Linked DNA regions of Homo sapiens. The protein of the gene in region 1 interacts with the protein of each later gene in a pairwise test. Each region holds a gene or a part of one and is shown on either strand. Other genes may lie near its edges.

Region 1 (4,131 bases):
TTTATGAGAGATATGTAGATATATGAAAACATAAATTGTGAAGAATATTTATTCAGAAAAACAACCTTCAGAAAATCAGCAATGGCTGATTCAGGACAAATTTCCACCAATCTGTAGTAAAAATTAATGTTCCTGGTGAAGATCCTAGGGCCATATGCAATGCCAGGTATACGATTAAGTATTATAATTAGGCCAGGCATGGTGGCTCATGCCTGTAATCCCAGCACTTTGGGAGGCCAAGGCAGGTGAATCACCCGAGGTCAGGAGTTCGAGACCAGACTGACCAACATGGTGAAACCCCGTCTCTACTAAATATACAAAATTAGCTAGGTGTGGTGGTGTGCACCTGTATTTCCAGCTACTTGGGAGGCTGAGATAGGAGAATTGCTTGAACCTGGGAGGCAGAGGTTACAGTGACCTGAGATCGCACCACTGCACCCCAGCCTGGGTAACAGAGTGAGACTCCATCTAAACAAACAAACCATATATATATATGCTGAAGCGAGCAGATCACTTGAGGTCAGGAGTTTGAGACCAGCCTGGCCAACATGGTAAAACCCCACCTGTACTAAAAATAAAAAAATTAGCTGGGCGTTTGGCACATGCTATAGTCCCAGCTGCTTGGGAGGCTGAGGCAGGAGACTTGCTTGAACCTGGGAGGCGGAGGTTGCAGTGAGCTGAATTCACGCCACTGCATTCCACTCTGGGTGACAGAGCAAGAAAAAAGAATACTTGTACAACAATGAGAGTATTCAGTTAATGAGTGACTCTTGCCCAATTCTGTAACTTTAGAGTAACAAGCGTTGGAAGAAGAGAAGAATGGATACTGGGGAGCAATTGGCAATCTTTATGACAATACAAAACTAATGATGCATAAAAGTTAAAATGAAGTAGACATTAGGTCCACTGACAATTAGGTAATGAGTCTAAATGAATTGGAGCATCCTGTTTTACTTCATTTTCTTTTGTTTTGTCAAAGGAGTTTATGATCTATTGGGATGCCCTAAGTATGTGTTGTAGGCAGTTCTGGGAAGAGTCTTGTGAGTAAAGTGACTCAGGAAACTCTGAAAATGAGGATATTAGGAATTGATGACAACACTGGTGCACAGAAAAAAAAAAACACAGGAATTTTACAATTAAAAGTTTTTATTTAAAAATCTCTCATAACAACACATTACTTAGTATAATCAATTATAATTCAGGATTTTGATGACTTGTACCTGTGTTATTTCTTTTCTTTTCTTTTTTTTTGAGACGGAGTCTTGCTCTGTCCCAGGCTGGAGTGCAGTGGTGTGATCTCAGCTTACTGCAACGTCCGCCTCCCAGGTTCAAGCAATTCTCCTACCTCACCCTCCTCAGTAGCTGGGATTATAGGCGCCTACCACCACACCTGGCTAATTTTTGTAGTTTTAATAGAGACGGGGGTTTCACCATGTTGGCCAGGCTGGTCTCGAACTCCTGACCATAAATGATCTGCTTGCCTTGGCCTCCCAAAATTCTGGGATTACAGGCATGAGCCACCACACCTGGCCTGTTATTTCTTTTTTCTTTCTTTCTTTTTTTTTTTTTTTTTTGAGACGGAGTTTTGCTCTTCTTGCCCAGGTTGGAGTGCAGTGGCGCGATCTCAGCTCACTGCAACCTCCGCCTCCTGGGTTCAAGCAATTCTCCTGCCTCAGCCTTCCAAGTAGCTGGGATTGCAGGCACCCACCACCATGCCTGGCTTATTTTTGTATTTTTAGTAGAGACGGGGTTTCACCATTTTGGTCAGGCTGGTCTCGAACTCCTACCTCAGATGATCCACGCGCCTCATCCTCCCAAAGTGCTGGGATTACAGGCATGAGCCACTGTGCCTGGCCTGTTATTTCTAAACTGAACCTTTCATTACTTTCTTTAGCCAAAAAACAGGCCTGCTGCATGTACAGGAGGAAGATAGCAATGTTTCAGCCTAAGGGTCCAACCGGAGAAACTAATATGCAGAGATGGGGCTGTGAGATGGCCCTATTGGGTTGGAATCAGAACTAGAAGTCACACAACCTTGAACCCTATCAGAGCCTCATCAGCTCAGTTTAGGGATAGGGCAGGTATATCCTCCTTGGATATTCACTAACTTGAAAGTTAAAAGCAGTTTTCCTGGTTTTCATGCTGGCAGTCTTTATATGCACCAAATCTTTTCTAGCCTTCCTGGTGTACCTATCTTTGGAGCTGCTCACCACCAAATTCTGGAGGTACACAGCTCTAAGCTAATGGTAGGGGCAGGAAAGACATGTGGAAAGAAATAAATACTCAAGCTGCCCCCACAGAGACTGATCTTTCCTGCTGTGTCATCTTCCTTGAGGATGGACAAACATAACTTTTGTCCCGAGATAATGTATAATGTACACTCTTATCCCTTGACTCCCACCTTGCCTCCCCTTCCTACAATAACCCTCCAAGCCATTCAACCCCTACTCTCAGTGAGACTCTCACTAACTACCCCCCATCTCTTTCTTCCCCTACTAGGAAACTGAGCCCAATTACCAAGTCCTGATTCGCATCCTTATCTCTCGATGTGAGACTGACCTTCTGAGTATCAGAGCTGAGTTCAGGAAGAAATTTGGGAAGTCCCTCTACTCTTCTCTCCAGGTGAAACTTGGCTACTTCTTAGCCTGGAGCCTCAGGCCTTCACTCCTCACCTCCACCCTCACTCCCTGCACACAGCTGAGCATATTCTTGCCCCATAGAAAACCCAGTAGTTAGCCAGGCACAGTGGCTCACGCCTGTAATCCCAGCACTTTGAGAGGCTGAGGTGGGCGGATCACGAGGTCAGGAGTTCAAGACCACCCTGACCAACATGGTGAAACCCCGTCTCTACTAAAAATACAAAAATTAGCCAGGCATGGTGGCGTGCACCTGTAATCCCAGCTACTCAGGAGGCTGAGGCAGGAGAGTCGCTTGAACCCAGAAGGCAGAGGTTGCAGTGAGCCAAGATCGTGCCACTGCACTCCCACCTGGGTGACAGGGCAAGACTCCATCTTAAAAAAGAAAACCCAGGAGTCTTTGGTTAATGTAGTGCAGGACTCTGAGCTCCCGGGAGGACCCTTCCCTCCCAGATGAACTGTGATGGACCAGCCCAAAGGAGGGGAGAGAGCACTTGGGCCATAGTGGTGGTGGATCTTTCTAACACTGAATTCCCTTGTCTGCAGGATGCAGTGAAAGGGGATTGCCAGTCAGCCCTCCTGGCCTTGTGCAGGGCTGAAGACATGTGAGACTTCCCTGCCCCACCCCACATGACATCCGAGGATCTGAGATTTCCGTGTTTGGCTGAACCTGGGAGACCAGCTGGGCCTCCAAGTAGGATAACCCCTCACTGAGCACCACATTCTCTAGCTTCTTGTTGAGGCTGGAACTGTTTCTTTAAAATCCCTTAATTTTCCCATCTCAAAATTATATCTGTACCTGGGTCATCCAGCTCCTTCTTGGGTGTGGGGAAATGAGTTTTCTTTGATAGTTTCTGCCTCACTCATCCCTCCTGTACCCTGGCCAGAACATCTCACTGATACTCGAATTCTTTTGGCAAACTTCGCTGTTGTTTGTGTTCCCTGATTGAAGGTTGGGTGGAGCAGGACATGGACCGGGAAGAGGCACTGGAGTTGGAAGTGCCTTTGATGTGCACTTGGCTATTCCGCAGGAATCCTGTTTTGCCTTAGTGCTACAGTAATCCACACCCAGGTCTCCCACTCCAGGTCTCCCCTCACCCTCATTCTCCAGGAAACTTCAGGCAAAATAATTGAGAAACAGGCATTAGAACAAGGTGAGAAATAGAGGGAGCAAAGGACCATCTGTATGAACTGGGAAGCAAGCGGAGGGCCAAGCTACCCTCCCCAGCATGGGAATTCTTGGGTTAGTGGAGAGCACAACCCTCAAATTCATGTGTCCAAGCAGAGATTTGGAAACCCACCTCCCAGGAGAGCACTATTTCCCATAGAAAACAAAAACAAAAACAGAAACAAAAACAAAAAGTCAGGCTTTGGTTCCCCCTGCAGGCTATATTAGAAATGACAGGTAGCTGGGCGCAGTGGCTCACGCCTGTAATTCCAGCACTTCGGGAGGCCAAGGCAGGCGGATTACTTGAGGTCAGGAATTCAAGACTAG
Region 2 (7,288 bases), on another chromosome or scaffold:
ACGACTGGAGTGACCGCAACCTCGACTACCCCAGCCGCCGGCGCCAGTATGAGGTGGGTTCTGGGGGCCTGGGGCATCAGGGAGGAGGCAGCCCTGGAAGGAGCACGGGACCGCCAGGCTGGGCACTGAGGCCCCTCCACTGCCCCCCACTGCAGAATTTCATCAACCGGAACCTGGAGGCCAAAGAGGAGAGAATCAACAAACTGCACAGCGAGGGCGACCAGCTGCTGGCGGCCGAGCACCCCGGGAGGAACTCCATTGAGGTTCATGCACCCCGAGACCAGACACCTCCCCCAGGGTGGCTTCTGGTTGGCCGCTGCCTGTGGGCCGCCTGGAGCTCGGGCAGACCCCGGAGCTGGGGGTCCTGCAAGCTGCATCTTGTGTCTGTCTGTCTCTTTCTTGCTGTGTCTGACTCTGCCTCCTCCATTTATCCTGATCCGTTGACACTTCTGCCCTCAGCCCCTGGACTTCTGAAGCCCCTGTGGGGTCTGTATTAGTTTCCTAGAGTTGCTGCAACAAGTTAAAACAAACTTAGTGGCTTTAAACAACAGAAATTCATTCTCTCAGAGGTCTGTGGGCTGTAAGTCTGAAATCAAGGTGTCTTAGGGCCTCATTCCCTCTGGAAGCTCCAGGACATGTGCCTTCCTTGCTCTTCCGGCTTCTGGGGGTTGCCAACAGCCCTTGGCTTGTGGCTGCATCATTCCAGTCCCTTCCTCCGTCTTCACATGGCCTTCTCTCCCCATGTCTCTCTGTATCCTCTCTTCTTATAAGGATATCAGTCAGTGGATTTAGGGCTCACCCTAATTTCAGGATCCTTAACTAATGACATCTGCAAAGATCTTATTCCCAAATAAGGTCGCATTCTTCCCAACCCCCACAATGCCACCAACCCCGCCTGAGATGGAGTTTCGCTGTTGTTGCCCAGGCTGGAGTGCGATGGTGTAATCTTGGCTCACTGCAACCTCCACCTCCCGGGTTCAAGCAATTCTCCTGCCTCAGCCTCCCAAGTAGCTGGGACTACAGGCGCACACCATCATGCCCAGCTAATTTTTGTATTTTTAGTAGAGACAGGGTCTCATCATGTGGGCCAGGCTAGTCTCAAACTCCTGACCTCAGGTGATCCACCCGCCTCGGCCTCCCAAAGTGCTGCGATTACAGGTGTGAGCCACCATGCCTGGCCAGGGTCATGGATTTGGTGGGACACTGTTCGGTCCATGACAGTGCCTTTGTACAGATTTGCCGAAGGCACCACAGCCCCCACTTGCCCTTTGTGCACTGCACAGCCTGGGCATCCGTATGTGGCATCCCTGTTTGGCTCCTTGACGTGACCCCTCTCTCCTCCTCCCACTCCTGAGCAGAAGCTGGCTACCCCTGTGGTAGCCACACCCAGACAGATGCCAGATGCCTCCCTCCCCCGCCATGCCCCAGCCCAATATCCCAGCAGTCCCTCCCTTGGTGTCTGCAGTACCTGCCCAGTGGTGACCGGCCCCTTCTCTTCCTGGCAGGCGCACATGGAGGCTGTGCACGCAGACTGGAAGGAGTACCTGAACCTGCTCATCTGCGAGGAGAGCCACCTCAAGTACATGGAGGACTACCACCAGGTACTTACCTTTCCTGGGAGTCCCCCCAGCACCGGGGGTGCTACTCTCTGAGAGCGCTCAGTGCCTACCTGGCTCATGTGTGGCCTCGTGCTCCTTGGTCCAGGAGCCTTGCGGGGCAGCCATCCCAGGCCCCCAGCACCCATGCTTCTGATGGCGTGTGCAGACATGTCCCAAGCTTGCCGGCCCCTGTCCAACTTCCCTGGGGACCAGGGCCAGAGTCTGATTCCCCAGGTCACATGGGGCCCAGGGTGAGTGTGTAGGGTTTTAATTTTGGTAAAATCTATAATATACATGCAGATACATAAAACAAAATTTGCCTTTTTTTTTTTTTTTTTTTTTTTTGAGAGAGTCTTGCCCTGTCACCCAGGCTGGAGTGCAGTCGTGCCATCTCGGCTCACTACAACCTCCACCTCCTGGGTTCAAGTGATTCTCCTGCCTCAGCCTCCTGAACAGCTGGGATTACAAGTGCCCACCACCACACCCAGCTAATTTTTGTATTTTCAGTAAAGATGGGGTTTCGCCATGTTGGTCAGGCTGGTCTCGAACTCCTGACCTCAGGTGATCCTCCCGCCTCGGCCTCCTAAAGTGTTGGGATTACAGGTGTGAGCCACCACACCCGGCCAGTTTGCATTTTTAAGTGTACAATTCAGTGGCATTCATTGCATTCGCAATGTTATGCAACCATCACCACCATCTACTTGCAAAACTTTCCATCACCCCAAACAGAAACCCTATACCCTGGCTGGGCACGGTAGCTCATGTCTGTAATTCCAGCACTCTGGGAAGCCGAGGCGACTGGATCACCTGAGGTCAGGAGTTCAAGACCAGCCTGGCCAACATGATGAAACCCCATCTCTACTAAAATACAAAAGTTAGCCAGGTGTGGTGGCCCATATCTGTAGTCCCAGATGGGAGGCTGAGGCAGGAGAACTGCTTGAACCCAGGAGGCAGAGGTTGCAGTGAGCTGAGATCGCGCCATTGCACTCCAGCCTGGGCGACAGAGTGAGTCTCCGCCTCAAAAAAAAAAAAAAAAAACAACCCCGTACTCATTAGGCAGTAAGTTTTCCATTCCCACTCCCCCAGCCCCAGGTCACCTTTGGTCTTCTTGCTGTCTCTATGGACTTGCCTGTTCCAGAAGTGTCACACCTAGAACGAATATGAAGAATCAGTGGGATCATGCAATCTCTGCCCTTTTGTGTCTGGCTTCTCTCACTGAGCATCATGTTTTCCGGGTTCATCCGTGTTGTAGCATTTTCAGTGCTTCACCCCTTTTTATGGCTGAATCATATCCTATTGTATGGCTAGACCACTGTGTTTATCCACTCATCTGTGGCTGGACACTTGTCTGTTTCCAGAGGAATGAGAGTTCTTAAGAAGCTGCGGGTAATTCTTAGGATTGAGGTGTCTGGGGAAAGCTGGATGTGGGCGACGCCGTGTCACTCCTCATTCCCTGTCTGAGCCGCACAGTGGGGGCTTCAGGTCCTGTTTATGGCTGCAGCCCAGGTGCTCAGCCCAGGGGATAGCTGACAGTGAACCAAGAGTTGATAGACTGAAGAATGGGCAAGAGAATTTTCGAGAACAAAAAGGGGAGGCTATTATCAAAACCTAGAAAGAAGCTATAGTATTAAGTCTGGATGTTCCTAGTACAGAGAGAGGAACTGAATCAAAGACACCTCAAGACTTACTGATACATCCAAGAAAACATGTCACAGAGGTGGCATCTCATGGATGGGTGGGAAGGGACCTGGCTTTTCCCAGTGAGGCCCCTAAGGAGCCAGCTCAGGGAGGGTGGGGCTGTCTCCACGCAGAGGAGCCTCAGGCTCAGCACAGGGTCCCATGCTGGACTCCAGGTGAACCGGAGGCCCAGCCCCGCCTGAGGGATGAGCTTGAAGCCTCCGACAGAAGCCCAGGTGCTTCTAGTGGTTTCCTGGCTGTAACAGAGCCACCTTCTCCCCTAGTTTCACGAAGACGTGAAGGACGCTCAGGAGCTGCTGCGCAAGGTGGACTCGGACCTGAACCAGAAGTATGGCCCTGACTTCAAGGACCGGTACCAGATTGAGCTGCTGCTGCGGGAGCTGGATGTGAGCGATGGCCCAGGACCCCTGCTGGCCCGGGGGGCGGGGGACCCCTCTACACCATGCCTGCCCTCAGCCCTGTACAGGCCCCTCCACAGCACCCCACCTGCTGAATCCAGCCCCTGCTCTGCGTCCTCCCACCAGGGGGAAGGCTGTTGGTCTCACCTGGGCCCCTGACCCCGTTCTCTCCAGGACCAGGAGAAGGTGCTGGACAAGTATGAGGACGTGGTGCAGGGGCTGCAGAAGCGAGGCCAGCAGGTGGTGCCCCTCAAGTACCGCCGGGAGACTCCGCTCAAGCCCATCCCCGTGGAGGCACTCTGTGACTTTGAGGGGGAGCAGGTGCGTGGGGCCAGCTCCTCTGTTCACATCACTACAAAGTTTTTGGGGTAACATGGTTGGATCCCGGGCCTCAGGCGCCGTTCTCAGGAGCCTGTGCCTGTCTCCGTGGTTGGTGTCACTCTGCCAACCCTTCCCCTGGTGCAGGCCAACTGGCACCCCTATGCCGCCCCCACCTCGGCTGCCCTGGCCTTGTGTTCCACCAGCTTAGCAACCCCAGTCCCTCCTCAGAAGTCCCAGGCCAGGTTCTCATTGGCTCACTGTGAGTCACGTGTCCATCCTACACCAATCACTGTGGCCAGGGAATGCCAGGGTCCACCCTATACCAATGACTGTGGCTGGCGAATGCCAGTCATTGGCCAGGTCCAAGTCACATGTCCATCTGGAGCTTGGGAATGGAGAAGGAGAGACCACAGGGACTGGGAATTGGGAGGGAAGGTTCCCCAAAGGGAAATGGAGGTGGGTTGCTGGGCCGGCAGCCTCAACACATGTGCTTCTCCTGCATGCCCCTCCCCACTCTACGGGGAGGGTCCAAGTGATGAGCCGGGGCTCCCCAGGTCCAAGAGTCGGGGGCTGAGATGGCAACCGGGCTCCCAGGCCCTCAGGCCCTGCCGGGATCCTGACTGTCCAGCCTGCCCCCGCCAGGGCCTGATCTCGCGGGGCTACAGCTACACCCTGCAGAAGAACAACGGGGAGAGCTGGGAGCTCATGGACAGCGCTGGGAACAAGCTGATTGCTCCGGCCGTGTGTTTTGTGATCCCCCCCACAGACCCTGAGGCCCTGGCTCTGGCTGACAGGTACAAGGGCAAAGGCGGGAGTCTGCATGGACCAGTCCCACCCCCAGGGCTTCTCAGGCCCCATTCATAGCCCCGGGGATTTGGACTCAGCCTGTGGGGAGCGCGGGGTCGCTGACACTCTCCATCTGCACCCCCTTGGAAGTTCATGCAGGAGAGGGGCAGATTGTGGGCCAGCTGACTTGCTAAACATGAATGTCTAGCTCTGGGCTTCGTCCTGGCCCCCTCACGAGTTTCTAAGCAGTTTCTAAGGGCCCCTGACTCCCGCACGCACTGCTCCCTGTACTTGCAGACCCCAGCCCCTTGGCTGGAGGACTCAGCTGGGATAAGGGCTGCCTCCTCTTTGCTCCCAGGCACCTTCTTCCACTGCACGCACCGCTTTTTATTAAGTGACTAGCGTATGCGTCAGTCTCATTGGGCCTGGGCTCCTTGAATTTCCTCTCTCCAGGGCCTAGTTAAGTACCTGGTACAAAGTAGGTGCCCAGGAACTCCTTGCTGAATGAGTGGATCATTCAAGGAATGCCTTCATTTATTAAGTATTTATTGAGCACCTACTGTGTATGCTCCCTCAGAAGTAACATCTTGGTGGTGATTATTGGACAGACAATTTTAGGTAGTGAGACTTCCTACGAAAGAGGAGGGAAGGAGGGAGAAGAGCTCTGAGCCCAGGAGCACAGAAAGGCCAGTGCCACAGTGAGCACTTGCTGTCCGCATCTAAGGAGCTGTCAGGCTCCTCTGGGGTGTCTGCCCAGCCAGAGTCCGCAGTCCCGCCTCTGTGGGTGCAGGGGGTGGTGGGCTGCCCAGGTTCCCAGCTCATTTCTGTCCTCACAGCCTGGGCAGCCAGTACCGGAGCGTGCGGCAGAAGGCAGCTGGGAGCAAACGCACGCTGCAGCAGCGGTATGAGGTGCTGAAGACCGAGAATCCCGGAGGTGGGTGCCAGGGCCACTCGCCTGAGGCTCTGGGGGTACCGGGGAGGAGGGGCTGGACCAGGGTCTGTGCTGTGGATGAGACGGCGGGGGGCTGGCTGCCTAGGTCCATCCCTGGGCCTCACACCCCTGGCCCGTTGTCACACCTGCCTGTGTCCTCCCTCCCTCCACAGATGCCTCTGACCTACAGGGGCGGCAGCTGCTGGCTGGCTTGGACAAGGTGGCCAGCGACCTGGACCGGCAGGAGAAGGCCATCACAGGGATCCTGCGGCCACCACTGGAGCAAGGCCGGGCTGTGCAGGACAGTGCCGAGCGGGCCAAGGACCTCAAGGTACCTGCGGGTCAGGAGCACAGGTGGGGCCGGGGGAGCCCTGCACTGGCCCCCTGGGGCCCCTATTTGAGGTCTTTTCCCCATGGAGTCTTGGGATATTCACTGCAGCTGTCTGTCAGGGACAGCCTGCTGCATGTAAAAGGGTCCCAAGTCATGGAGGTGGCAGGGCTGCTGTCATTACCTCCCCAGGAGAAAGAGCTGGCAGGACTTGCATTGTTCCTGCACGGCTTGTCGATCTGACGCCTGGCATGGCACATGGGCTGTGGAATTCCGCAGGACTGGGTCACCGGCTGGCTTGACTGCAAACACGTTAGCGTTTGTATTTATAAACTCCAGGCCTCAGTGTCTTCAGTAGGATGGGTTGGCCCTGCTCACAGGGCAGTGGCGAGGACAGGGTGAGCTGATGCCAGGGGGGACGTGGAGGGGCCACCTCCCCCCACCTCCTTTCCTATACAAAGTCTCCCACATCCTCAAGGCAGCCCTCTGAGGCAGTGAGTAGCACTCCAATTTTACAGAAGAGGATCTGGGATTGGAGAAGTGCCATAGCCCCTGATGGGGCCTCAGAGTGAGAGCCAAGTCAGGGCGAGAGGATGCCGGTCTCGGGTGTAGCCTGACCCCACAAGTCCCTTCCTAAGCTGCTGGGAGTCGTCACACCCCCACCCGTGACTGGGTGGAGTCGTAGTACTCACCTCCCGGGGTTGCCGCAAAGATTAAACAGAAGCGTCCGCGTGCAGTGCTGAGGACAGCACAGGCCCGGCAGCTGCCTGGGTGCTTCTGGTGTCACTAGTCCATTCCACCTCAGCGGTTCCCTGGGATGCTCGTGAAAAATACAGCCCTCAGGCTGGGGTCCAGATGCCGGGTCAGAGCCCCAGAATGTGCCAGGCCTCTCCAGCTGCTTCCACTGTGCCTGATGTGGGAATCTGTGCTCACCCTGGGCACATCCTCAGGGGAAGGGGCTGCCTGGCTGTGTCCAAAACTGAGGGGCCCTGGTTCCCACAGAACATCACCAACGAGCTACTGCGGATTGAACCTGAGAAGACGCGGAGCACGGCTGAGGGCGAAGCCTTCATCCAGGCCCTCCCAGGCAGTGGCACCACACCCCTGCTGAGGACCCGGGTGGAGGACACCAACCGGAAATACGAGCACCTCCTGCAGCTGCTGGACTTGGCCCAGGAGAAGTGGGTGGCAGACAGGCAGCATGGAGGTTGGGGTGGGGTCAGGGGGC

The links.
Region 2: the proteins of ANXA9 (region 1) and PPL interact in binary tests that used the Homo sapiens proteins (3 or more experiments, as listed by UniProt).

The regions. Positions count from the first base shown.
Region 1 is NC_000001.11:150,992,078-150,996,208, forward strand, and holds the end of ANXA9 (annexin A9), read left to right. Parts: intron 1-2,499; coding exon 2,500-2,622; coding exon of another isoform or gene 2,623-2,736; exon of another isoform or gene 2,737-3,182; coding exon 3,183-3,245; 3' UTR 3,246-3,557; downstream 3,558-4,131. UniProt on the Homo sapiens protein: Low affinity receptor for acetylcholine known to be targeted by disease-causing pemphigus vulgaris antibodies in keratinocytes.
Region 2 is NC_000016.10:4,891,988-4,899,275, reverse strand, and holds part of PPL (periplakin), read left to right. Parts: coding exon 1-53; intron 54-155; coding exon 156-263; intron 264-1,505; coding exon 1,506-1,601; intron 1,602-2,695; exon of another isoform or gene 2,696-3,559; coding exon 3,560-3,682; intron 3,683-3,841; exon of another isoform or gene 3,842-3,868; coding exon 3,869-4,015; intron 4,016-4,609; coding exon of another isoform or gene 4,610-4,657; coding exon 4,658-4,809; intron 4,810-5,637; coding exon 5,638-5,735; intron 5,736-5,905; coding exon 5,906-6,063; intron 6,064-7,062; coding exon 7,063-7,241; intron 7,242-7,288. UniProt on the Homo sapiens protein: Component of the cornified envelope of keratinocytes. May link the cornified envelope to desmosomes and intermediate filaments. May act as a localization signal in PKB/AKT-mediated signaling.